Regions from separate parts of the Homo sapiens genome. Here region 2 is linked to region 1. Evidence: fine-mapped expression QTL. A gene starts in region 1. The other region holds a variant in brackets. All regions are shown on one strand. Distances are between the middles of the regions.

Region 1 (11,268 bases):
CCAGGACTTTGGGAGGCCAAGGCGGGTGGATCGCTTTAGGCCAGGAGTTCAAGAACAGCCTGGCCAACATGGTGAAACCCTGTCTCTACTAAAAATACAAAAATCAGCAGGGTGTGATGGTGCACACTTGTAATCCCAGCTACTTGGGAGGCTGAGGCAGGAGAATCACTTGAACCCAGGAGGCGGAGGTTGCAGTGAGCTGAGATCACGCCACTGCACTCCAGCATGGATGACAGAGCAGGACTCCATCTCAAAGAAAAAAAAAGAAAAATTATTCAGGGACAGTGCTAGGTGTTGGCCATTTAATTGTGAACAGAATGGAACCTGGCTCTGCTCTCAGAGAGATCCCTGTTAGAGGGGGAGACAGGCAGTGATAGCAATAACAGCATGGTAAGTGGTGGGGCACCTGGCCTGGGTCTTCGAGGACCCATGGTGGGGAGCCAGAAGCAGGGGGCACTGTGGGCAGAGGGAGCAGCAAGAGGCAACAGGAGGCTGGTCAGAGGTGAGAGGTGAGGCAGAGAGGCAGGGAGGCTGGAGTGGCAGGCTAGAGAGCTAGGCTTTATCCAGAGGATGGTGGAGCCACCAGAGAGTGTAAGGCAGGGTATGGCATCAAGGGGCAACAGAGACACCACTGTACCCTGGGAAGGGGGGATTGGAGCCTGGGCCAGGGCAGAGGCTTCATCCCCAGCATGCATTTTCAGAGCAAGTTTTCCCAGGGGCAATGAGAGAAGTTGAGAGAAGGAGGATGAAAAGGCCTGAATGAGCCAAATACCTCCTCAGGGCTGGAGAGACAGGAAGCCTCCTAATACATGGGAGAAGCTGAGGCTGGAACTTTGCCCTTCCCCTCCTGATCTGCTACTGCTAATGGAACCCTCCTCCCGCCCCCATGGTTCCATTACCCACCTCCAGGGGACCATTACTGTGCCTGGGCCTTCACCATTAGCCTGCCTTGGCTGCTTGGTTCCAGGGAGACTCCCTCGATGCTATTCCAGCCTTTCAGATGGCCTGTTGTGTGACGCTGGCTGTGTCTCAATTTCCGGTTTGATCAATGGTTTTACATTACTTCAGCCACAAAATCTTTCATGTGCTTGCAACAAATTCTTACCAGGAAATGTAAATAAATAAAAATACAAAGGCAAAGGTGCTCAAGTTGAAGTGGGATGGGAGTTCCCCAGGCAGCCCCAGGTAAGGGGGACTCTGTTGGGGGATTTGAAGCCTGCTGGGCTTGATGGCCTCTGAAACCCAGCGATGGGACTGCCTGGGGAGGATGTCAGGAGACGAAACTTCTAGGCCCTCATTGCATGGGATACTAACGCCTTGAGCCCAGACAGCTTGGGATGATGAATAAAACCATGAAAAAAGAATTTAAGGATAGGGTGCAGGGGCTCATGCCTGGAATCCCAGCACTTTGGGAGGCCGAGGCAGGAGGACTGCTTGGACTCAGCAGTTTGAGACCAGCCTGGTCAACACAGGGAGATCCCATCTCTACAAAAAATTTACAAATTAGCCCGGCATGGTGGCATGTGCCTGTATTCCCAGCTACTTGGGAGGCTGAGATGGGAGGATCCCTTGGCCCTGGGACATAGAGACTGTAGTGTGCTGTGATCATGCCACTGCACTACGGCCTGGGTGACAGAGTGAGGCCCTTTCTCAAAAAATTTAAGACAGGCCAGCAAGTGAGAGATTAGTATTACTCCCTTTTGCAAAAGAGGAAACTCAGGCTCAGAGAGGAGTCATAGGACAGGTGAGGTAAGACTGGAATCTAAACCCAAGGCTATGGGGTTCAAGGACTAGGCCCCTTCCTCTGCTCCTCAAGCCTCACTAAGTCACCTGTGTGGTAGCTGAAACGCTGTATGTCTCAGGAATGCAGTTTCCTCAGCTGTAAAGTAAGGGAATTGGGCCAGAGCAGGGGCAGAGCCCTGGGCAGGCCACCAACCAGATTTGCCCGCTGAAGGCTAAGGTCGAGCCTGGGTCCTCAACTTGGCGTCAAAGAAACTTGTTTCTCCTGGGCTAAATGGCAGTGACAGTATAAGGTTTGAAGTTTTGGAAGAGGGGAGAGAAAGAGAGGGTTGGCTGGAGTTCCAGTGCCCAAAGGGTCTTCCCCACACTGGAACCTGAAGGCCTAGGCCCTATAACTCGGGCTATGAGGATACTTAGGTCCCTGGAAGGTGCGTGGCCCAGCTTAGACAATAGGCGCAGGAGGCTAGACAAGGGGCCTTTGTGTCTCCCAAGCAAAGGCCCCAGCAGGACTGCAGAGGCGGCTCAGCCACTATGGGCTGTGTGTCCACTCTGCTACTGCTCCTGGTGGGGCTGCAGCCAGCACCCTTCCTGGCAGCCAGGCCCAGTCAGCTGATATGGAGCCCAAGAGGGCCCAAGGCCCCGAAGGCCCGGGGCAAGTTCCTTGGCTACAGGAAGAGGCCTCCTCTGCACTTGTCCAGCCAGCGGAGCGATTGGCTCCATTTCACAGGAAAGAAGACCCTGCCAGGGAATGGAACTGGGTCAAGGTCTCCCAGAGTCAGTGCTGAAGCCAGACAGGAACCTACACTCCTGATTCCTAGACCAGAAATGAGAGAGAGGCGGGGTGCTCATTCATTCATCCATTCACACCTTCAAGGATTGAGCACCTCCCAGGACCTCTAGGACAGCAGCAGGAAGAAGGCAGACCTGGTTCCTGCCCTCGGGAGCTCACAGTCTCCGAACGGGTCAGACATGCAGCCGGTAGCCCGACCAGGGAAGGCCATTAGAGTGGGGTTGACGACAGAGAAGAGAGGTAAAGCAGCTCAAGATAAGGGGCCAGAGTGGGGAGTTCAGGGAGCTGCTGATAAGATTAAGGCAGGGAAAGTGGGGAGCACGGGAGAGGCGGGATCCTGAGTACCCTGCTTTCCTAACCACGGTAATGGAGAGAGGCACCCCCTTCCCCCACTTTCAAGCAAGGGAGGTACGTCCTTAGCCTGGGGTTCCGAGCAGGTATCTCCCAGTAGGTCCCTTCCTGGCCAGCCGGGCTGGGGCAGGGGCGGGACAGGGGTAGGGTGGCGCGGTGGCTGGGCGCAAAGGTCCCGCAGTGGGCCACGCAGGCACCGGGCTGACCTGGCAAAACTTTGGCGTCTCTGAAAACCTCTGGTAACCAGCTCCCTTCTAGCGTGAGGGAGCCGGGAGGCCTCCTTCTGGCCCGGCAGTGAGAGCGTCGCCGCCCGACCCTCCCGTTGCAGCACCGGTACAGACACGCTGACCCCGCGGCCTTGTCGCTGGGCGGCGTCCCGGAGCGGGTGGCGCGGTGTCTACCCGGGCGGGTTGAGGGCGGTGCCAGGGTCAGTCAAAAGTCCGCCCCGCCCCCTGCCTGGCCCGGCTTCGGGGTTGGGGAACAGCGCAGGGAGGTGGGTAGCCGGGCTCCCAGGCACGTGGGTCTCTGCGGCTGCGGCGGGACCCGGGCACTGGCACCCGGGAGCGGCGGCGACGGCACCCTGAGAGGAGAAGCGCAGCGCAGTGGCGAGAGGTGGGGTGGGGCGTCTGGAGGGAACAAGGCGCTGGGAGAGGCCCGGGGAAGCGGCGGGCCAGACTGGCGCAGGTGCGGACTGGGCGCGGGGCAGGGGAGGGCGCTGTGGAGCGGCTGTCGCCCCGGGGCACAGTTGCGAGCCGGCGTGTAGCGCATAACTGGACGGCTTGAACGCGCCTGTGGGTCCGTGGTTGAACTTTGTCTCCACGGGAGCGTCGGTCTCGGTGAGTGTGGACGGGCGCCCCAGTAGTGAGGCTGTGCGCGTCAGCGTACTGGGGAGGTCTGCGTGTTAGCGGGTGAGTGTGTGCGCCCCTCGGGGCGACTGGCCAAGCCTGCGGAACTTGTCTGTGTGTGCTCCGATGTGAGCGTCCCCGTGGCGTGAGGCGGTGGCCGGTGCCCAGAGACGCGAACCCCTGGAGACCCCCTACCACTGTCCTAACCCCAGGGTCACTCTGGGTGGCCACCTACCATTGGTAATGTTGAGGGGGCAGTTGCAGGGAGTGGGCGGGGGAGGAGGGAGTGGCCAGAAAGGACAGTTAAGCCTCTGTCCCCGGGCTTTTAATCTGGCAAATGGTGCGGTAGAAAGGGTCAGTCAGGAGAAAGGCGATACCCCACCCCCCAACCCGAAGGCTGCCAGTGGCCCTCTTGGGGTCCTCCAGGAGCGCAGCCCAAGGGTTGGGGACTGCTGGAGACCAGAATTGCCAGCTCGGGATTTGTGGGGTCCATGGCTGCTGTTCCTCTCAGCATGGCATCCCCAGCTTCCCAGGACCACAGCCTGATCTGCCTGGTTTGTTTTGGATCTAAGCTGAAATAATTATGAGTTTTGAGGATCTGGGTGGAGACCCAGGCAAGTTTATTACCTGTGGGTGGAAGTGGAAGGAAGAAGATTCTCTGAGCAGACAGGTCCACAAGAGAGCTCTGGAGACTCAGAGATCTATGTTCCAATCCTGTCTTGGCCACTGTGTGGCCTGGGCAAGCCGTCCTTTCTCTGAGCCTCAGTGGCCTCGTCTGTAAGAAGGGACTAATGATAAGGAATTTGAGGGCTGTTGAGGAGCTGATGAGTGTGTCATGTTCAGCACCAGTGTCCCCCCATGGGCAGGCTCACAGCTTGGGGATGGGAAGTCAGTCCCTGGAAGGAGCCTCCCAGAACCAGAATCCCAACTGTGCCCCTCCCTAGGGCACAAGCCTTCCACAGGACCAAGCCTGAACCCTGTAGCCTGGGACTTAAGGTATTTGATAACTGGGGCCTGCCAGCCTTTCCAGCCACCTCTCCCGCCTGACTCTTTACCTTGCAGCAGCTGCCTGGAGTCTCTCATTTCTTGCCCCTGGCCTGTTGCATATTCTACACTCCCTCTCTGATAAGCCCTCCTACTCTCACCTTCCTCAACTGGAGAACTACCCAGACTTGGGACCCAGCTCAGATGTCCTCTCCTCTGGAAAGCCTTCCTTGATCCCTACAGCTGGGTTGGAGCCTCTTCTAGGCCCCTACAGGCCTGGGGCTGACAGCCCTGGTCCCACCTGAACCGTCATGATCTATGTCTGTCTCCTCCTTTCCTCTTCCCAGGTCTAGGGGCTCCTGGAGGGCAGAAACTGGGTCTTATTATTTCTGTGTTGCCAGCACCCTGCACAGGGCTGAGCTGAACTGAGAGAGCAGCAGTGGCGCCCATCCCCTGTCTCTGGCACCAGCTTCTCCAGTAAAGGCCCGGCTGCAGGGGAGCTCCATGTCACTACAAAGAAGGGCAAACCAGAATCTGGTTATCAAAGTGGGTGGCACAGTTTGCCAGAACAGTGTGATCTGGGACACTGTAGGACCTAGAGTGCCCAGGCTAAAGACCTAGAGATTTTATCCTGAAGGCAATAGGGAGCCATGGAAATTTATGAGCAGAGGTGTTTCATGGTCAGAGCGGCATTTCAGAAAGCGCTCTCTGGCTGCAGGATGGAGAATGGATCAAGTATTGCCAAGTGCAGGGAGGTCAGGGCATTTGTGATGTCAACACTAGAACTGTCCCAGGAGTTGTTTGAACCCTAATTGAGCCCTTGCCCCTTGGCCAAACACTTTTCCCTGAGCCTTCAGATGCTCCTGCTGAGGAATTTGGGGACCTGCAATTGATCTCATCCCAGCTCTGTTCCCAGCTGGTTGAATGACCAGTTCCTGCCCTGCCAGGCTCTAAAAGGAGGCCAGAACAAGTAAGATCCTGCATGGGAGAGTATGTGTGTGGGGAGGCTCTGGCACAAAAGGCTTGTCGCTCTTTCTCCTCTTCTCCCTGCCTTGGGCTGTCTTGGAGTCTGGTCAGAGGGGTTGGGGATCCCAGTGGGCAACCCTCAGAAATGACTACCAAGCTTGGGCTGTGGAGTGAGGCTGTGACTCCTCTGTTTCTGTCTCCCTCCTGCCCTGGATGCATGGGGCTCTAAGGCTGTGGATCCCCCAAGGACCAGCTAAGAAGGTGTGAGGGTATCACCAGGGCCTCATGAGTGACCCCATGAGAGCTTTGACTTAATGGCTATAGTCTTTAGAGAGGCCATTGTCCCTCTCTAGGTGTCAGTTCTGCCATTTGTAAATTGAGAATGGTGATCCTTGCTTCTTTGAGAGCAGAGTTGCTACGAGGATTAAGATAGTGACCAGGGAAGAGCTTTATAAGCCTTAAACTGCAGTGCTCAGAGGAGGAATGTGACACTTGTAGACTTAAATCCATTTTGAAGACTATAAGAGAACATGGGTGCAATAGCAAGGGATTGTGCTTGTTATTGAAATTTGATTACTGAATGCCTTCCTCCCCCACCCCCTCTGCAGAGATGGCTTCACTAGTAACGATTTACAACAATCCATTTTGTCTTCCTATAGCCCTGTGAGGGAGGAATTGTATCTCCATTTTGCAGATCAGGAAATAGAGGCATGGATTGTATCCTGCCCAGGGTCACCAAGCTGAGGTGAAACCTGGGGCTCCAGTCCACCTGCCAGCTTAGCCCTCCCCATCTGAGACAGAGCCCTGTTAGGGTTAGGCCTGGTCCTCTGGCTTCCAGGCTGAGGGGAGTTTGAATTCTGCCCTGGGAACCTGTGTTTGGGGCTTTCTTGTGGCCAGATTACCCAACTGCTGATAAGGTAACGCCTGCCCAGACCTGCCCACGGGACCAGAGATGCCTTGTTGATCTGGTGAGGGGAGTGGGGGTTGCCCCTCATGCCTTCCACCCAAACCGCCTCTCCCCAAACTGCTTTCTGTAGGCCTGCTTGCTATACCCTCTGGGCCACACCTCCTCTTGGTTGTCCTTGGGTCCTGAGGCCTGGCCTTCCCTTATTACTGGGCCCTGATAGGAGGAGGCTGGCTGTGTGGGCCACTCTGACCTCTGTACTCATCCAGCGGCCAGTTGCAGGACTAGGCTAGGCCATACCTGCTTTCTCTCTCTGTCCCCATCAGCCACCACAGGTTGGGCTCAGAGCAGCTGCCAGTGGGTCTTTGGGAAATGAGTGGCCAGGCGGGAGTAGGCATGGAGTAGAAGGGGAGGCTTTGCTCCACGGAGTGCCATAGTTGGTTCTGGAGCAGAGGAGTTCCTCCACCCCATCACCCCATCTCCTAGGCCTGAGTCTTTCCTGGTCCAAGATGAGTAGCGGGAGTTTCTGGTAGGAGGGTGAGCAGCCTGGGCCCCGTGGAACAACTCCTTGACCCTCTGCCCTGGTACCTTGTCACTGTCATTGTAGCTCCTGAATGAGAGGCCTGGGTGCTGGAGTGAGGGAAAGGGACCTCCCTCAGACTTCTGGGGCTTTATGTGGCCTCTCCCTCCCCAGGTCTGAGGAGAGCCTCTGGGTGTCGACCTGGCTTCCTGGTGAGTGCCCAGCCACCCAGCCCTGGCTTGTAGGAGGGGGACTCTTGCCATGGCTGGGCTGTTGCAGGAAATCCAGGGCCAAGGGACCTGCTCCTCTCATGGCACCACCGTATGTGTCGTCTCCTCCTTGGTCTCCCTCCCTCCAGACTCCCTGTCCCATCTACCTTCCATGTGGCACCATCTTTGTAAAGGTTGACTCTGACCATGTCCTTCCCCTCTTAAGCCTTCCATGGCTCCTCAGTGTCCTTAGAATAGAGGCCAAGCTTTTCAGCCTGGCATTTGAGCCTTTTCAAGTGAATTCCTCAGGCTCCCACACATTCCATGCCACCTCACCCTCCACAGTAGCCGTATAAGACCTCCCAGCCTTTTTCCAGCAGGTCACACTTTCATCCACCAAGTCTTTGCTCATGCCTCTCCTGCCTTCAGAGCCCTCCTCCCTCTTTGCCCACCTGACAAACTCCTAATCATCTACCAGTTTCCAGCTCAGATGACCCCTCCTCTGCAGAAGCACTCCCTGACCACCTCCCCCAGGCCAGGTAGGAGTTGCTGTGTGCTCCATAACCCCTGGGCTTGCCTTGGTTATGGTTTATTCACCCAAGTGGATTTGGTCCATGTCTGTGTCTTTTTCCTCAGCCTGACTGGGTACTCCTCAAGGGCCCAGCAGAGTGCAATCTGAGTCTGAGTTCACAAGGTCCATCTGAGGCCAGGTGCACCAGAGCATTGGCAAGTGTTTGCTGGGACTTTGTGGTTCCTGGGAATGTGATTTAAGATTTCATTACTCTGAATCCAGACCCCTGTGGCTCTGAGAATCTCAAAACCAAAGGCTATCAGGAGCAACGAGTAATAGAATTGAAGAAACACAGCCTTCACACCCGGAACCAGAGCCTCTTGGAATTAGACTGCGAGAACCAGGGAACTCAGAATCCTGGAGGTACCTGGAGGGGCCATCTCAGAATCAGAGGCTCATGTGGTTCCTGGTTGATGCTTTCATCCCCCTTTCCACCTTGGATTCTCCATCCACCTTCTTTCCTCCCAAGCTGGACCCTTCCTGCTCCTCCTCAAATCTTATCACAGTTCCCCTTCCAGGGACCTTGCCTGACTGCTCTGACCATGACCTCTGTCCCTCTGCTGGGGAACACCTGGGAGGGCCTCCCTACCAAGCAGTGTCATGGGCTCCTGAATTTCAGTGTCTCCCTGTTGTGACAGGCAGACACAGCCTCCACATTAGGACAGTTCATGATTTGCTAGCGCCAAGGTGCACCCACCTGCCCCCTTGTCTTATTCCTCATGAGCTGTCCCATGCAGCAGTGATTCTCCCCATCTGACCACTGAAGAACCCGAGGCTCTGAGAAGGGGGGCTGACTTCACCAAGACTGCACAGCACAGGTGGCTCCAAGTTAGAGCCTGAACTCACGGTTCTTGCCTCTTGAAGCTGGAGGCATTTGGCTGTGATAGGTTGGGGTGGTGTCCAGGACGTTGTGGTTCTGAGCCTGTTTAATTTAGTAGCATGTCTCTGTAGCCCTGTTCTGGGCTATGCTGGGTTCCAGGTGAGATGGGTGGTTTGGGGTCCTGCTCTATGTTGGGGGTGAGGTGGTCAAACCCACACTGACAATAATTGGAACACTAGACCTTGAGTAAGGCCCTTCCTCTTTAGAGGTCTTGGCTTTCTGATCTGTAAGCCTGGTTGATCTGAGACTTACCCACTCTGATGCTGCTCTGAGCTCAGCCTTGGTGAGTGGCCTCCACAGCCAGGATCCTAGGGGGGTCCCAAAGAGGGAGAGAACATCTGGGAGGGGGTAGAGAGCCCAAGGGCCTCCTGAAGGGGGTGCCTAACACCACAACAGCACCGGCTGATAGCATCTGAGGTTACCCCTTAGCCATTTCCTCAGACCGGCCCTGGTGCTCCCGGTGCAGAAGCATGTCAGGCAAGGCAGGGGGCCTGCTGGCTTTCAGCCCCTTGAAGGACATTGGGGAGGAGCCAGCGTGACTTCTAAGCTCCTCAGCCTGTGCACTCTAGCCTTGCCCTCTCCACTCCCCTCAAGCCACCAGGATGATGAGCAGTTCCTCAAACGTGTCATGTCATCTCTTGTTCATCCTCACTCTGCTCCTCTTCTCTCTCCAACCACCTGACTCCTCGTCTTCCAAAATGCAGGTCAGGCGCTCTCTCCTCCAGGAAGCCTTCCCTCATCACCCCTCCAATCCTGTTAGGGGCCTCCTTGGCTTCCTCCAGGCCTGATCACCCTGTGTTATCATCGCCTGTTTCTGAGTGTGCCTCCCCTGACGTTGACAGTGAATTCCTTGAGATCTGACCTACCTCAGAGTCCCCAGGTGCCCTGCCCAGCAGTGGGCATAGATGTGGCAACCTTTGTGAAGGGTGAGCGAGTGAAAGAGTATGGTGGCTATCTGGCTTCTGCTGGGGAATCCCTGGACTGCCTTCCCCCTGAGGATGGCCTTCAGTGTGGGAGACCTGATCTGTGGTTTTTCTGGTTGTGACCTTCCTGTATCCCCTTCCCATAATTCCTGCGAAGCTTCCTGCCCTTCTTGTCTTCCTGAGATAACCCCACCCTCCATGCCTTCTTTACCTGCTGAAATATTCTCTCTTACTATTTCATAAAATAAGCCTAAATCATCTAACTAGCTCAACAACCTTCTGAGGCAGGTACTGTTCTGATATTGAGAGGAAATTGAGATCTGGGTTTTGGAGTTAAGAGACTTGTCTTACCACTGGAAAGAGGAGAACTCGGATTTCCCACCTGCCTAGTGCCTCTCTTGCCCCCTCAATGAGGTTCTGGCACTAGGTCCTCTGTTTTCCCTCACAGCACCCAACTCCTGGCAGAGATAGGCAGCAGGGGTCTCCACAGTGGTGACAGCACATTCTCCCCTACCAGGCTAGACAGGGTCTGCCACCAGCCAGGGAGGCACATTCCAGAGCCACTCTAGTGGAGGGGCTGGAATGTCATCCAACCACCCTGGAAATTCTGCAGTGGCCTGGGAGCTGCCCAGCTCCTCCTCCTGACTTTGGCCTCACTAGCCTAGAACCACAAAGAGAAAGGCCCAGACTGGGGTAGGGGCAGAGCCAGGTCAGGGGGTTACAGGTCTGCATGCTAGGCTTGGCTCTGCCCTTGGCTCACTGGTGACCTTGGGTGAGACCTTGAGCTACCCCTTTCTGGCCTTAGTTTTTCTACCTGTGAGATGGGTGCAATAACCACCCATCTGAAAAGAGTAAATCCTGAGCCCTGCCAATTGGCATTCCTCTGGCAGAGAACTGAGCAGACAGGCAGAGAGCTGTGGGGCCAAAAAGGGATGGTCAGGCAGCTTCCTGGGAGAGGGCCGGGGCCTTGCAGGGCAGGAGGTAGTGGTCAGGGGCACAGCCTCTGAAATCAGACAGCCCAGAGTGGCTATGCCGTTTGCTAATTCAGGATTCAACGAGAGGAGGTATATGAAGCCACCTAACACAGAACTTGGCACAGGGACAGCACTAAACTCTTGTTGTGATATAGGTGTTAGATGATAAGGGAGGCCGTCTCTGAGCAATGATATGACCATGGGACTGCTTTTGTTGTGCCTGAGACAGGAAGATGAGGGCAGGGACAGAGAGGATGGGCTTTCTGGAGGGATGGTGGGTACCAGATCAGCCAGGGCCTGAGTGCCAGGCTGAGGAGCTGGGACAGTTGCCTGAGGGCACTAGGGAGCCACAAACATGGCTCAACAATGTATGGTAGGATTCGTGTTTCAGGAAACTACATGACTGCAGTGTGAAAGGTGGACAGACGGGGCAGGGGTGGAGGCACGGAGGCCAGTGAGGAGGCTGCTGCTGTGGACTGTGGAAGCACAGGCCTCGGGCTGCAGTGTGGGGACCGCGTAGTGCATGTCCGAGGAATTTCACTGGTTGGACTAACAGGGCTTGGTGAGTGGTGGGCTTCCAGCAGGGTGGGGAAGAGGGAGGTTGTCCAGGC
Region 2 (13,119 bases), 29 kb before region 1:
TGGGTGGCTGAGGTGGGATCTGTGCCTTCTGCAGATGATCCCGGCCTGGTGATGGCCCTCTTTTGGGCTGAGACTCCTCACGCGGAAGATGATGGAGGTGGATGTTGTGAGTCCTCTGGTCCTCCAGCACTTCAATCCAGCCTCCCACGGCAAGCCAGTTCTCGGCAACTGTGTGCCTGGGGTTCCACTCCCAGCACCTGCTTCTGGATGGCCTGGGGGATCCACCTGGGTGCCCCTCCACTCCGGGTCCCAGGGGAGACTGACACCCACCCAGGCAACCACCTGCTTGTTACAGAGCCCTGCAGGAGGCAGCTCACCACCCACGAGGAGGGACTTAGGCAGCGGACTTGCTGAGGGGTAAGGGTCTGCCCCATGATGCCTCACAGCTCCACCTTCTGGGAGCCACCCACGTGTGGGCAGCCTCAGGGGACTCCAGCTCCAGGAGCAAGATCGGGTTGTGGATGGAGGAAGGGTAAGTGAGTCACTGGGCACTTCCGAAGGCCCAGCCTAAACGATGTCCGGCCCGGCCCAGAGGAGATCTGGTCTCCAGTGGGCATGGCCTGCAGGACCGTGAGGGCTGATGTGTCTGGCATAGCTGAGGGCTGAGTCAAGGGACAGGGTGTTTGCTTTCCTGAGAGGACTTCTCCGGAGTTGGGGCATCTCCAGCCTTGCAGCTTCTCCTGTCTCTGCCAAGGGAAAGGTGGTGGGCCAGTCTCTGAGCTCTGTTCAAATGTCCGTCCCTCCCTGGGTGCTCCCTCAGCTGCAACCCACTCCACGCTCCATGCCTTTTCACCACTTGTCCCCAGCCCTCCCCAGGATGCCTCCTTTAATCCAGTGAGCTGGCTGCTACCAGTCAGGGCACAAGTCACTCCCAAGCAGTTCAGTCCCTAGGGGAAGGAAGGGCCAGCTCACACATCTTGAGTGCCTGCTGTGTGCCAGGCAGGCCCGCGTGGCACACTTTGCGTTATTATTGCGTTTCTTTCTCACAGCAGAGCCTTGTGAGGCAAATATTATCACACTAATTTCACAAAGGAGGAAGTCAAAGCTGGCCCTGCAGTATGAAGACTCAAGCCCAGACTTGCTGGCTCCTGCCTGCATCTCCCTCCACCTGGGTCTCCTGTCTCCCTACCTGCGGAAAGCTCACACTCTGAATCATTGTGCATGGCTCTTACCCCGCCCACCCCATCCTTGCGGCTGCTCACCTCCTGCATCACCTGTGCCCACTCAACAGCACACATGCCCACAAGCTCACATGCACCAAGATGGGCGCACTGGGTGCACGGGTGCACATGCATATTCCAGTCCTTACTGCTGCTTATCAGCTGTGTGACCTTGAGCAAGTCACTTAACCTCTCTGAGCCTCGGTTTTCTCATCTCACAGGGGTTGTTATGAGAATTAAATAAGATACTGAGTGTAACATTTCTAGTACCTTCCCTGGGCATAGTGCTCAATAAAGATTATCTACTTTTTAAACTTTAGCTATTTTTATTTCATCATTATTGTATATGTGCATCTTTGTACACTTTTTACACATGTAACAAGAGACATGCAGTAGACACAGAGGCCCGGGGATTACCACACACACCTACTGCCCATGCAGGAACCCACAATAAACCAGCCAGCCACCTAGTATACTGGGTGCCCATATGCTCATGCCAGGCTCTACTGAAGATGGGAGTTGGGGTTACCTGTGGTAGGGATACCTGTGTATAGGAGAAGACGGGGCCCTGGCCTTGGGGTCCACCCAAGCTGCCCGGGAAATGAGTTTTGTGCTCAAAGTGTGATCTGCGGGCCAATCTGGGACCTTGTTAGAATCTTGAAGAATCTCATACCTGACCCCAGATCTTCTTCTGAATCATGATCTGTTTTGGTTTGTTTTTTTTTTTTTTTTTTTGAAACAGAGTCTTGCTCTGTCGCCCAGGCTGGAGTGAGTGCAGTGGCGCAATCTCAGCTCACTGCAAGTTCTGCCTCCCAGGTTCATGCCATTCTCCTGTCTCCTAGGACAATAGGCACCCACCACCACGCCTGGCTATTTTTTTTTTTTTTTAGTAGAGATGGGGTTTCACCGTGTTAGCCAGGATGGTCTTGATCTCCTGACCTCGTGATCCACCCACATCGGCTTCCCAAAGTGCTGGGATTACAGGTGTGAGCCACTGCGCCCCGCCCCGATTTTGTTTTGTTTTGTTTTTAGAGATGGGGTCTCGCTCTGTCAGCGACAGGCTCCAGTGCAGTAGTACAATCATACTCAATAGCACACTGCAGCCTTGAACTCCCAGGATCAAGCAATGCTTCTGCCTCAGCCTCCCAAGTAGCTGGGACTATAGGCACATGACGCCACATCCAGCTAATTTTTTAAAAAGTTTTTTGTAGAGATGGGGTGGGGTCTTGTTATGTTACCAGGACTGATCTCAAAGTCCTGGCCTCAAGTGATTCTCCCTCCTTGGCATCCCAAAGTGCTCGGATTATAGGCATGAGGTACCACACTCAGCCAGGATCTGCATTTTAAATAAGATTCTCAGAGCACTAAGGCAGAGCAGAGGAAAGTGGGTGGAGCTGCATGCCTGGGCAGGATGAGGCTGACTTTGGGCCTGTCCCAGGTGTCTCCAATCCACACCTCTATCAATCAGGCTAACACACCTCCTGGCTCCTCCTCTGCTCTTGGGAGTTGATGCTAAGGTGTGAGGTTATCCAGTTCAGCCTTGGAAGGACAGGCTGGCCCCCTCAATCCTGTTCTAGGAGAACAAAAATAGTGAAGTCTCTCCTTGGTTCCTCTCAGGGCTCTGAAGGGCTTGGGGCTGGGAGCCACATAGGATCCAAGAAACTAGCAGGGGGTGCCTCCTGCCCATCGATCCCCCTTCTGAACCATGTTCATCCTAGCTTGTGAATCTCCCCTCCCAGCCTCCGGGTAGGTCACTGCCAAAACTCTGGCTGACCTCTTCCATCTTGAGTGGGGTGTGGGCTCAGTCCCTTGGGGCCATGGGAGCCTGAAGCCTGGGCCAGATCCCCCCTCCCTATCCCTGTTGGGGCTAATTTTAGGGCTGCTTTGACAGCTGCCTCAGCTCAGCCTGGGTCAGTTCCCAGCCACTCACTGTTGGGGTCAGTTAGGGTCACCTAGGAGTGGGCCAGGCCAGCCCCACCTTTGGCTGCAAAAGATGAAACTAGAATCTTTGTCCCCTGTCCGCCCTCCCCACTGCCTGGAGAGTCCCACTGAGCTGACCTCCACGTCCCATGCCCTGTATGTGAAACCGCAGAGGAGCCCAGGATTTAGAACAGCCCATGGAGATCAAGACTGAGTATTGGTGCCTCCATGCCTGGAGGATGCAGACAGGTGAGGCCCCTTCTCAGCGGCCCTCTCTGATGCCAACCCAACACATATTTCTGAACTCAGTTACTGTGCAAGGCTGTCAGAGATTAGGAGCAGATGACACCTGGGATACTTTCTGTTTTTTGAGATGAGTCTCGCTTTGTCACCGAGGCTGGAGTGCAATGGCACAATTTCGGTTCACTGCAATCTCCGCCTTCCAGGTTCAAGCAATTCTCCCTGCCTCAGCCTCCCAAGTAGCTGGGATTACAGGCACCCACCATCACAACTGGCTAATTTTGTATTTTTATTAATTTTGTAATTTTGTATTTTTGGTAGAGATGGGTTTTCGCCATGTTGGCCAGGCTGGTCTGACCTCAGGTGATCTGCCCGCCTCAGCCTCCCAAAGTGCTGGGATTACAGGTGTGAGCCACCGTGCCCAGCCACACCTGGGATACTTTCTAGAGGGAGGATTTTAGCTTCTGAGAACAAAGGGATGGAGTCCTTCCTCTGTCACCAACGCTCTGGTCCTTGGTTTCCTCCCCTCGGAAAGGGTGTGGTGATACCTGCTCACAGACTAGCTGGGGGTACAGAGGAGGAGAAAAGGGCCGGAAAGCGTGCTGGGAACTCTGGAGTCTGCAGTGCCCACAGGGCCGCCACTCGGCTGGGGCCTAGGTTCTCTCCCATGAGAACCTAGAGGTTGAGCAGCTACCACAGTCTTCGCCCCAGCCTGCCCCCAGCCAGTAATGTTGCAGAAGAAAAGAGGAACAGATCTTGAAGCTGACGTGGGCGAAAGGGAAGGGAAATGCAAGCAGGGGCCACGGAGGGAAGCTATGGGTCTCCTTCCCCCACCTGCAGCCTTTGCTGCCTCTGTTACTACCTTCTGTCTTTCCAAATCCTCCCCTCATCTCCAGCTCCTGCTTCCTCCCTGACCCTAGGGGGCTAAATAAGATGGGACACTGAGCACCCTGTGGGGAGGTGAGCTGTCTGGTGGGCTTTGTTTAATTTTCCAGAGCCCCCTCTCTACATATAA[C/A]CAAGGAACTTTCTAAAGACAGGGCTGGGCTTCAGTCCTCCAGGGGCAGCCCTGTGAACTGGGCTCAGAAAACCTCAGATTTGAACCCTCAACCCCATATCTGTCTGTGTTACCCTGAGCCAGGTGGGCCTCCCTCTGAATCCAGGTGCCTCATCCTCACACTGGCCCCATGAGGCCTTTGCAAGCTTCTGCCTGGTTCCTGGTTCTCATGGTGCCCCGGCCTTGTGTGTGAATGAGTGTGTGTGTGCACACTGGACTTTGCTGCACATGGTAGCCCACAATCAATATTGAATAGCCCACCTCAAATCCTTTTTGAAAGGCTGAGTACCTGAATAAATAGATAAATGTTGACTGAGTCTAAAAACACACATGCAGCCTGAGAAAAGCCTTGTTTATCCAGCCTCCCTAAATAAGGAGTCAATTCCCAGAGCGGACTCTCCAGATGATTCAGGATGGAGGAACCTAAAGATGTGGAAGAATAGAGGCCTCCTAGGTGGAGGGAACATCGTGAGCCACAGCTGAGAGCTGGAGGATACTTGGCTGCAAGTCGAACAGCCACATGAGATGAGCTGATAAGGCTGGCAGGGTCCAGAGCCTGGAGGGCCTCGAATGCCAGGCCAAGGAGCCAGACCTTATCCAGAGGGCAGTGGGAACCATGGAAGGGTTTTGAGCAGGGGAGTGACAAGGCTGGGTGTGTGGCCAGCAGGGTCCCTCTCTGGTTGCTGCATGAAGCATGGACTGAAGGCAGACAGCAGTGTCAAAGGGCCCTCTGCTTTTGAGGTTCAGGAGGAAAAGATGAAGGATGAAGTTGGGCAGTTCAGCGGAAGGTGAGAGGTGGACAGTCCCCAGGATAGCACAGAGGGGTGGCCAGGATTTAGTTAAGGATGGGAGGAGGGCAGGCAGAAAATGAGAGGAGGCTTGGTGGCTTCTGGGTTCCTGGCCCAGGTGACCGGCTGGTTGGTGATGCTCTTGCTGAGGTTGTGACAGGAAGAGCAGGTCTGGGGAAAGATAAAGAGTTCATCAGCTTTGGACATGTCAGGGGAGCAGGCGTCCCAAAGGAGGATTGATTAGAGGGCTGGAGCCAGGTAAATGTGGACAGATTTTCCCTGAATGACATTTTACTGGATGACTTTAAAGTATCCCAAGTATCCTGGGGACAGTCTTTGGCACCAACTGCCTATGGTCCCCAAGACAGATAGGACCAGGACTTGGGTCCCAGAGAAGGGTCAGCAAAGGGTCTGACTAGGGTGAAGGGGAGGGTCTAAGATCCTTGGCTCAGGAGTACCCCCAGGGTAATGCAGGAGTGGCTGGCACAGAGGTTTAGAGGTAGATAAGGGGTAGGAAAAAGCCATGGGTGGGCTGAGCTGGCAAGCCTCAGAGACCAGTCAGCCCAGAACCATCATTGTACAGACAGACAGAGCCAGGCCCGGCAAGGCCTAGGGATCTGGCAGGTCACAAGTCAAGGCAGACAGGTCATCAGCTTCTGGCTCAGTGCTGTACCCTCAGCCCGACTGGCTGGGAGGGGTCAGCTCCGTGTGGGCCTGGGATTGAGCTCCTGGGCCACGTCTAGGTGCTGTGGGCTTGTGTGGTTCGGGTGGAAGCACTGGGGCAGGCAGATGAGAGCCCCACCCTGAGCAGCACCCTAAACCCACTGTCTGTCAGTCTGCCCCAACCCTGTGCTTTTACTTTCTCAGTCCCAGGACCCAGGCTGGGCTGTAATCAGAGGAGGGAACTGGAACCTGGACCGGGGGAACACAAAGCTCTGCACACAGCCAGTCTCCTGGCAGATGCTGAGATGCTCATGGGTGGGTGGGGGACTGTGGCATCAGGGGCCATGTTCCACACAAGGTGAAATGCAGTAAGGGCAATTTCCACAAAGCTTGTTGAGCCAGGTACTGTTTTATGATCTTGAAACAGTGAACAGGATTTATGTTCTAACTAGACATTGACAATAAGCAAACTAATACATAACATAACAATGGAAAGATGAGAGGAAGAAACAGAGCCCAGAGGGATGGGCACCTTCAGTGGGGAGCGGGGAATGGCCACTTGACAGAAGACCCCTGCAGGCCTGATGGGCTGAGTGATTTTAATTAAATCTATGTCCCTACCCCCGACCCATGTACCCCCACCCCGCCTGCCACCAGGCACTCCACCTTCTCCTCAGCTCTAGCTGCACCACTGGGAGTTCCTATTTTTTTTTTTTTTTTTTTTTTTTTTGAGACAGAGTCTCACTCTGTCACCCAGGCTAAAGTGCAGTGGTGCGAACTTGGCTCACTGCAACCTCCACCTCCCGAGTTCAAGCAATTCTCCTGCCTCAGCCTCCCAAGTAGCTGGGATTACAGGCTCCCGTCACCACACCCAGATAACTTTTGTATTTTTAGTAGAGACGGGGTTTCACCATGTTGGCCAGGCTCGTCTTGAACTCCTGACCCCAAGTGATCTGCCCGCTTCTGCCTCCCAAGGTGCTGGGATTACAGGTGTGAGCCACTGCACCCAGCCGCACCATTGGGAGTTTCTGAGGGCTGCCCTTGACTGGACCATTACCAGGGCCTGAGGAGGACTGTGGGGAAATGAGCCTCTCACAAGGTCTAGTCCCTCCCACAAAGTCCTGCCCAAGAGCCACCCCAACCTGCCCACTTGGCTCCTCCAACCTGGGAGCCAGGTAAGAGCTGAGGAGCCCCAGGGCCTTGGCACTGAGTCAGATGTAGCCTGGGAGGTGGAGGTGACTCACTTGGGGGTGTCAAGATCCAGGAAACCACAGCCCAGGGTCAGGGCAGAAACCTGGAGACTCCCTGCCTTGCCTTGCCCCAGAATGATGAATAGGAGGGCCCTGGCCTTTCCTAAGAAGCCCCCAGCCAAGGGTCCTCCTGCTGTCATGAAGGCCCAAGTTCCAGTCAAGTTGTTGAGAGGTGCCCAAGGACCTGCCAGTGCCTGCTTCCTCTGGGCCTCGGCCTCCTAGTCCACTTATAGTGGGGAGCAATGGGGCTAGATAAGCTTCAGTGTTCCTAGCAGCTCTGAATTTCTGTTTCGTTGAGTATGTTGCAGGAGGCCCACAACCTCTGATGGTTCCTGGGGGCTCAGGGCAGGGGTGAATGACAGATGCTGAAAAGCGGGGGTCAAGGGAGGGTTTGCAAGGTTTAGCAAATGTCAATACAGGATATGTTGTTAAATTTGAATTTCAGATTAGCAATGAATAACTTTTTAGTATAAGCACATGTCCCAAATATCCGTTATGTTAAAGAATTTTTCACTGTTTATCAGAAATTCAAATTTGACTGGGCGTCTTGTACTTTCTCCGGCCATGCTAGGTGGGAAAGGTAATTGGAGCTGGGACTTCATCAGAGGAAGGTCTTAGACTCAGACAACTGGAGCTCTCACCACCTCCCTTGCTGCCCTCAGGGTCCCTTATCCATGAACTTCTTGATTTGTTGGAAGGTAGGGGGATGAGGGAGTGAGAACCCTGGGGTTAGGGGAAACTAAGAGCTATGTAGAGAGGCAGAGAGACCCCAAGACCCCAAGAGGCAGCACCGGAACTCTTCCTGGCCTGCACTCAGCTAACCTCGCCACCTCTCTTCCCCAGAACTCCTGCAAAGCTCAACCTCATTCCTACTGCCATACCCTTGCTTGTTCCAGCCCTGCCTCTTTCCATCCTATGCAAACTTTACCCACAGCCTCTGCCAGGAGCCCTTTCTTGGCTATCCTTTAGCGTTGTGACTTCCTCCTCTGGGTTCCCAGAGTGCTGTCAGTCACCCTCCTCCTCATGGAGCTGTTCAATCAATGGAGCACCCTCTCTGGAGGAGGCTTTGGAGCAGACTCTGGGCAGTGATTAGGACAGTGGAGCCGACAGTGATCGGGACAGGCACAGCCCCTGCTCCATGGAGCACACGGTCTGGTGGGGAGGCAGACACACAATCACAAAACAGGAGAGAATGAATCGCCCTTTCACTGGGACCAACTGGTCCATGTCACTGAGGCTTTATGCAGGCAGAGGACACGTTCTGTTGTACTCGGGCCCTACCACAGAGCAGGCTTCAGTGAATATTAGTGGCATAAGTGAGAGTGCAATGATGCAACTAAAGCTGGGGATGGTGGGGACGCTGACTAAGTCTGAGAGGTCACCATGCAAACAGCCTGAACTCGGCACCTCCGGCCGTGGCCTGGACCTGGTGAGGCTTGGCATCATGGCATGCCATTGCTCATGAGAATCTGGCCCTGCAAGAGTCTGCATTTCCAGGGGTCAGGGACTGGATCTTCCTCTCCTCTCATTCCCTCTTGCCCTGGCCAATAACCTGACACAGGAGATGAATTGATAGAGAGCTGATAGATGGGAAATACTGTGTGGCTGTCCCACTGAGGCTGGAAGGACTAGTCACACCACATTGTTCTTTCTCCTCTGCATAGAATGTTGCTTGGGGCAATTTTAGTAGGTAGTCACAATCTCTTTCCAGTATTAGAAGAGATGAGTGACTTTCTCCCTGTATGCAGGTCCCAGTGGCGTTTAGCATCTGCTTGTCCAGACCCCTTCACAGCTGTGGTCGGGGACCCCGCAATGACTGTGACAGGGCCATGCCTACCTACCCTTCACTAAGCCCTGGCTAAATGAGCCAGGCCCCCCTACAGACACCATCTCCAGTGCCCAGATTAAAGAAGAAACTGAGGCTTGGGAAGTGTAGGTGCTACAGTGGCTAAGCCAGGATTTTAACTCAGATTTGTCTAATGCTGAGGCTCAAGCTCCTTCTGTTGCACTGAGCTGCCTCTATTTTTTAAAGTAACCTCTGAGATGTTACTTATTTTTGGAACTCAGAAACTCACTCCAGCTTTATCCCACTTTGATCTTTATGACTTAGGTTGCAGATGCCATCAAAGCTGTTGCTTCTCTGTGAACTGCAGCAGACTTTGCCCGGAGCAGTAAACTGTGGACGGAGGAAGGGAAGCAGGAAGGCAGGTTTGAGACTGGTTCCCCATGGGTTCACTGGCACTATCCTGGGTCGTCCCACCCTTCCTTCAGCCTGCCGCCCTGTCCTGAGTCATGCAGTTCCCTAGCACTCCTGGGACAGCTGAGCCCTGTGCATGCATGCACGCAGCATTCCCCTGCAGCCTGCGCTCACACCACCCCCCACGCACCACCCTCCACCTGGTCCTGGACATACTTCGCTACCTCAAGGTATCCAATGGCCAAAATCCAAGGCTACCACTGGGGAAGATTCTTCACGGGTTTGCAGTGTGCCATGTCTCCCCTGCTAGACTGTGAATGCCTCTAGGGCAGGGACCTTTCACCCTCTCATTTGTGTGCCCAATAAGCACCTACTATGTGCCAGGCACAGTGCTGGATGCCAGGGTATAATTGGAGCTGATGTGCAGTCAGTACACAATGGCACAGCTGTAGCAGCCCTGAGACCTCCAAGTGCTCCAGCACCCTGGCTGCCCCTTGGTGTACTGCCTGGGCCTCCTCACAGTCCTTCAATGAAAGGGCTAATGTTTGGCACACTGGAGGGCTCCAGGAGCTCATGTCACATTGGCTCATGTCTTAGACCTCCTGGACCTCCCTGGCCTCTGTAGGTATGTGCCTGATTCCGGGCAGGTTTGCACTGGGATAGACATGGGGCGGTTTCAGTGATGAGTCACCTGATGACAGCCCTGTAAAATATAAAGGAGTGCTGGGTACAGGCATGCACAAGACCTTGAGTGCTCCTCTGTGACAGTCTCCTCACCAGTAACTGTCTGAGTCAAGTCTGGCCATAGGCAAATCCATTGTCATCCTTTCCTCTCCCCCTGCTGGCTTCAAGATCCAGCCAGTTCTCTCTTTCTTTGCTGGCTTCTGTATCACTAATGGACTTGTGGCTTTGGGAGCAGGTGCCATTTCCCTGCAGGCTGTGGACTTCTTATCAGCTCCATCCAAGAGTTTTGACAGGAGCCTGAAGCCCTGTTTAAAGTCCCTGTCTTCTAGTGGAGTTTCACTGATTTTCTGGTTATGCCAGCTTCTGGTTCCAAGGTCATTGCCAGCCCTTAGTTCATGGGCAGAGCTGAGACCTTTGGCATGCTTGGTGCCCAGCTCAGGTTCCCAGGTCTGTCCCCCTACCCCAGGGGCTCCCACACACCCTGGGATGGTCTTCTAGGGCCTGTCCATGTGCAGTGTTCACAGTGGCAAAAACACAGCAACAACAGCACATGCAAACGCTCCCAGCAAAAGGTAGGAGGGTTTTACACTCCTGGACCAGGGCTGGAACAGCGTTGTTTATTAAGAACACGGACTTTAGATAATTCTATTGAGATTATACATGGAAAGCCCTTGTTTCAGTATCTGACACATACTAGGTGTTCAATAAATTACAACTATCATTAAAGGCACTTTGAGGAGAGCAGAATTTGCTATGATGGTTGATGATGTGGTAAAGGTAGTGATTCTTGATAGTGATTATGGAGTCTCACCACTGACAATGGCAACGATAGTTTTCCTTACCCAGGGAATGATATATCTCTCTGGGGATATTTACAGTAGGTTTGTAGGTCACATTTGATAAAGAGAGTCAAGAAGAGAAGGAAATATGTCCTATGGGTAATTTCTAGTTTGATTATGGAGACAAGATTCAGAGACACAAAAGAATTATAAGAGTTCTCCCACTTGACCTGGGAGCCAAGGGCTCGGGAAAGGGAGGCTCAAGGTTCCTAGCACAAGGTAATCATTCAAATATGATTCCCCAAAATGGCATTGACAGCCTTCGTCCTCTTTCCACTGTTGGTCACTGTTAGAACAGAAGGGAGGCTGGTGAGCCAGTGAACCCCTGCTTCTTTCTCCTGCTTACTTTCTCCCCGCAACTTGCCAGAGGTTCACAAACCTTCAGGTAAATGACATGACAGGGAATGTCACTGACAGAGGGTTAGGGGTGAAAATGTCAGGATGGGCAAGTATCAGACCCTCCTGGCCTTCCCCCAGCTGCTCCAGAGGAGTTTTGAGCTGAATTGCACCCCTAGCCACAGCGGAGCCCACTACTGTGCTCACAGAACCACTGTCGGAGAGTTTCGAGGACTCAGAGAGAACACAAACACCAGGAGACTGGAAATTCAACTTTCTTTCTTTTTTTTTTTTTTTTGAGGCAGAGTCTCACTCTGTTGCCCAGGCTGCAATGCAGTGGCACAATCTCGGCTCACTGCAACCTCCACCTCCCGGGTTCAAGCAATTCTCCTGCCTCAGCCTCCCAAGTAGCTGGGATTACAGGTGTGCACCACCACGCCCAGCTAATTTTTGTATTTTTAGTAGAGACAGGGTTTCACGATGTTGGCCAGGCTGGTCTCGAACTCCTGATCTCAAGTGATCTGCCTACCTCGGCCTCCCAAAGTGTTGGGATTGCAGGCGTGAGACACTGCACTGGCCTGGAGATTCAACTTTCAAAAGGTAAACGATGGAAACCACAGAGGAGAGACTTTTAGACCCTCTGCCAGTGACATTCCGGATTACCAATACCTTCAATAGTCCAGAACCTTATTACCTGTATTTTACAGTTGTGGAAACTGAGGGTCATAGGGTTTAAATAAACGAATAAGTGATAGAATCAGGATTTGAATGTAGGGTTGTCTATTCCAAATCATTCCTCTTAACCACTATCCTGCCAGTCGAAGCCATGGTGATGCCCTTCTGAGCAAATTGATGGTGTCTGTGATGCCCTTATGTACCAACCTTCTCTACTCAGCAGAGGAGGAAATGGCCCCTGGCTAGTGGGCGGGAGCATCAGTGGATATTATGCTGGATTAAGATGTCATTCTACTGTTGACTTAGAACATAACCATGGGGCCATGAGGCCGCACCCCTGTGGGAAGGCAGTGAAATGGCTCATCTAAAGTTCTTCCTGGTGTAAGTGCCCTGGGGAAGATGTGTGATCCAGGGCCTGGGAAGCAGAACTGCTGTAGGATCTTATGGCTACAGAAGAGAGACCCGGACTCTTTTTTTTTTTTTGAGACAGAGTCTCACTCTGTCACCCAGGCTGGAGTGCAGTGGCAATTCTTGGCTCAATGCAACCTCTGCCTCCCAAGTTCCAGTGATTCTCCTGCCTCAGCCTCCTGGGTAGCTGGGATTATAGGCACACACCACCACATGCGGCTAATTTTTGTATTTTTAGTAGAGATGCGGTTTCATCATGTTGGCCAGGCTGGTGTCGAACTCCTGAATTCAGGTGATCCACTATCTCGGCCTCCCAAAGTGCTGGGATTACAGGCACGAGCCACCGTGCCCGGCCAGACCCTGACTCTCATAGTCTGCACTTTTGAAGATATTGAAGATATTGGTGTCTATAAGGATGTCCCCAAGTCAGGGGCCTATCAAAAAGAGGCAGGTCAGGAACTAGAAGGGGAGGGTGGAGATCAGGCAAGGCCCTATGTTTCACTCTGGAGTCAGTTAGCACCTGGAGAACAAATGATACCTTACACAACAAACTGTTTAGTAGGTCACACTCCACCCCATTCATGTCCCCATTGTCACCTCTATCTGAACAGCCTGTTACAGCCATTTTAAGGAAGCAATTTTTAAGGATAATAATTTAAAATAAAATTTTAGAACAAGTAGACAAACTTCTTAAAAGAATAGTTTTTGATGCACAGAAAAGTTGCAAAGATGGTACAGAGGATTCTCGTATATCCTCACCCACTTTCCTCTACTGCTAACGTCTTATATTGGCCACGGCAAATGAACCAGTATTAGTAAATTATTATTAACTAAAATCCATACTTTATTTACATTTCCTTCGTTTTTACCTAATGTCCTTTTTCTGTCCCAGGATTCCATCCAAG

Evidence for each region.
Region 2: its variant is fine-mapped to the expression of P2RY2 in whole blood (TOPMed, PIP above 0.99).

The regions. Positions count from the first base shown.
Region 1 is chr11:73,214,940-73,226,207 of GRCh38, forward strand. P2RY2 (purinergic receptor P2Y2) reads left to right here and starts at 3,342. Exons shown (of 3, transcript NM_002564.4): 1 at 3,342-3,493. It overlaps LOC124902709 (a long non-coding RNA gene), which reads right to left and starts at 3,254. Exons shown (of 3, transcript XR_007062773.1): 1 at 3,088-3,254; 2 at 904-1,100; 3 at 1-249. RefSeq lists enhancers at 3,176-3,894, 3,895-4,613 and a silencer at 3,253-3,462.
Region 2 is chr11:73,185,452-73,198,570 of GRCh38, forward strand. No RefSeq gene overlaps it. Among named protein-coding and RNA genes, the nearest start is that of IUR1, 9.1 kb to the left of the region's middle. The variant C/A (reference allele first, on the strand shown) is at 4,336.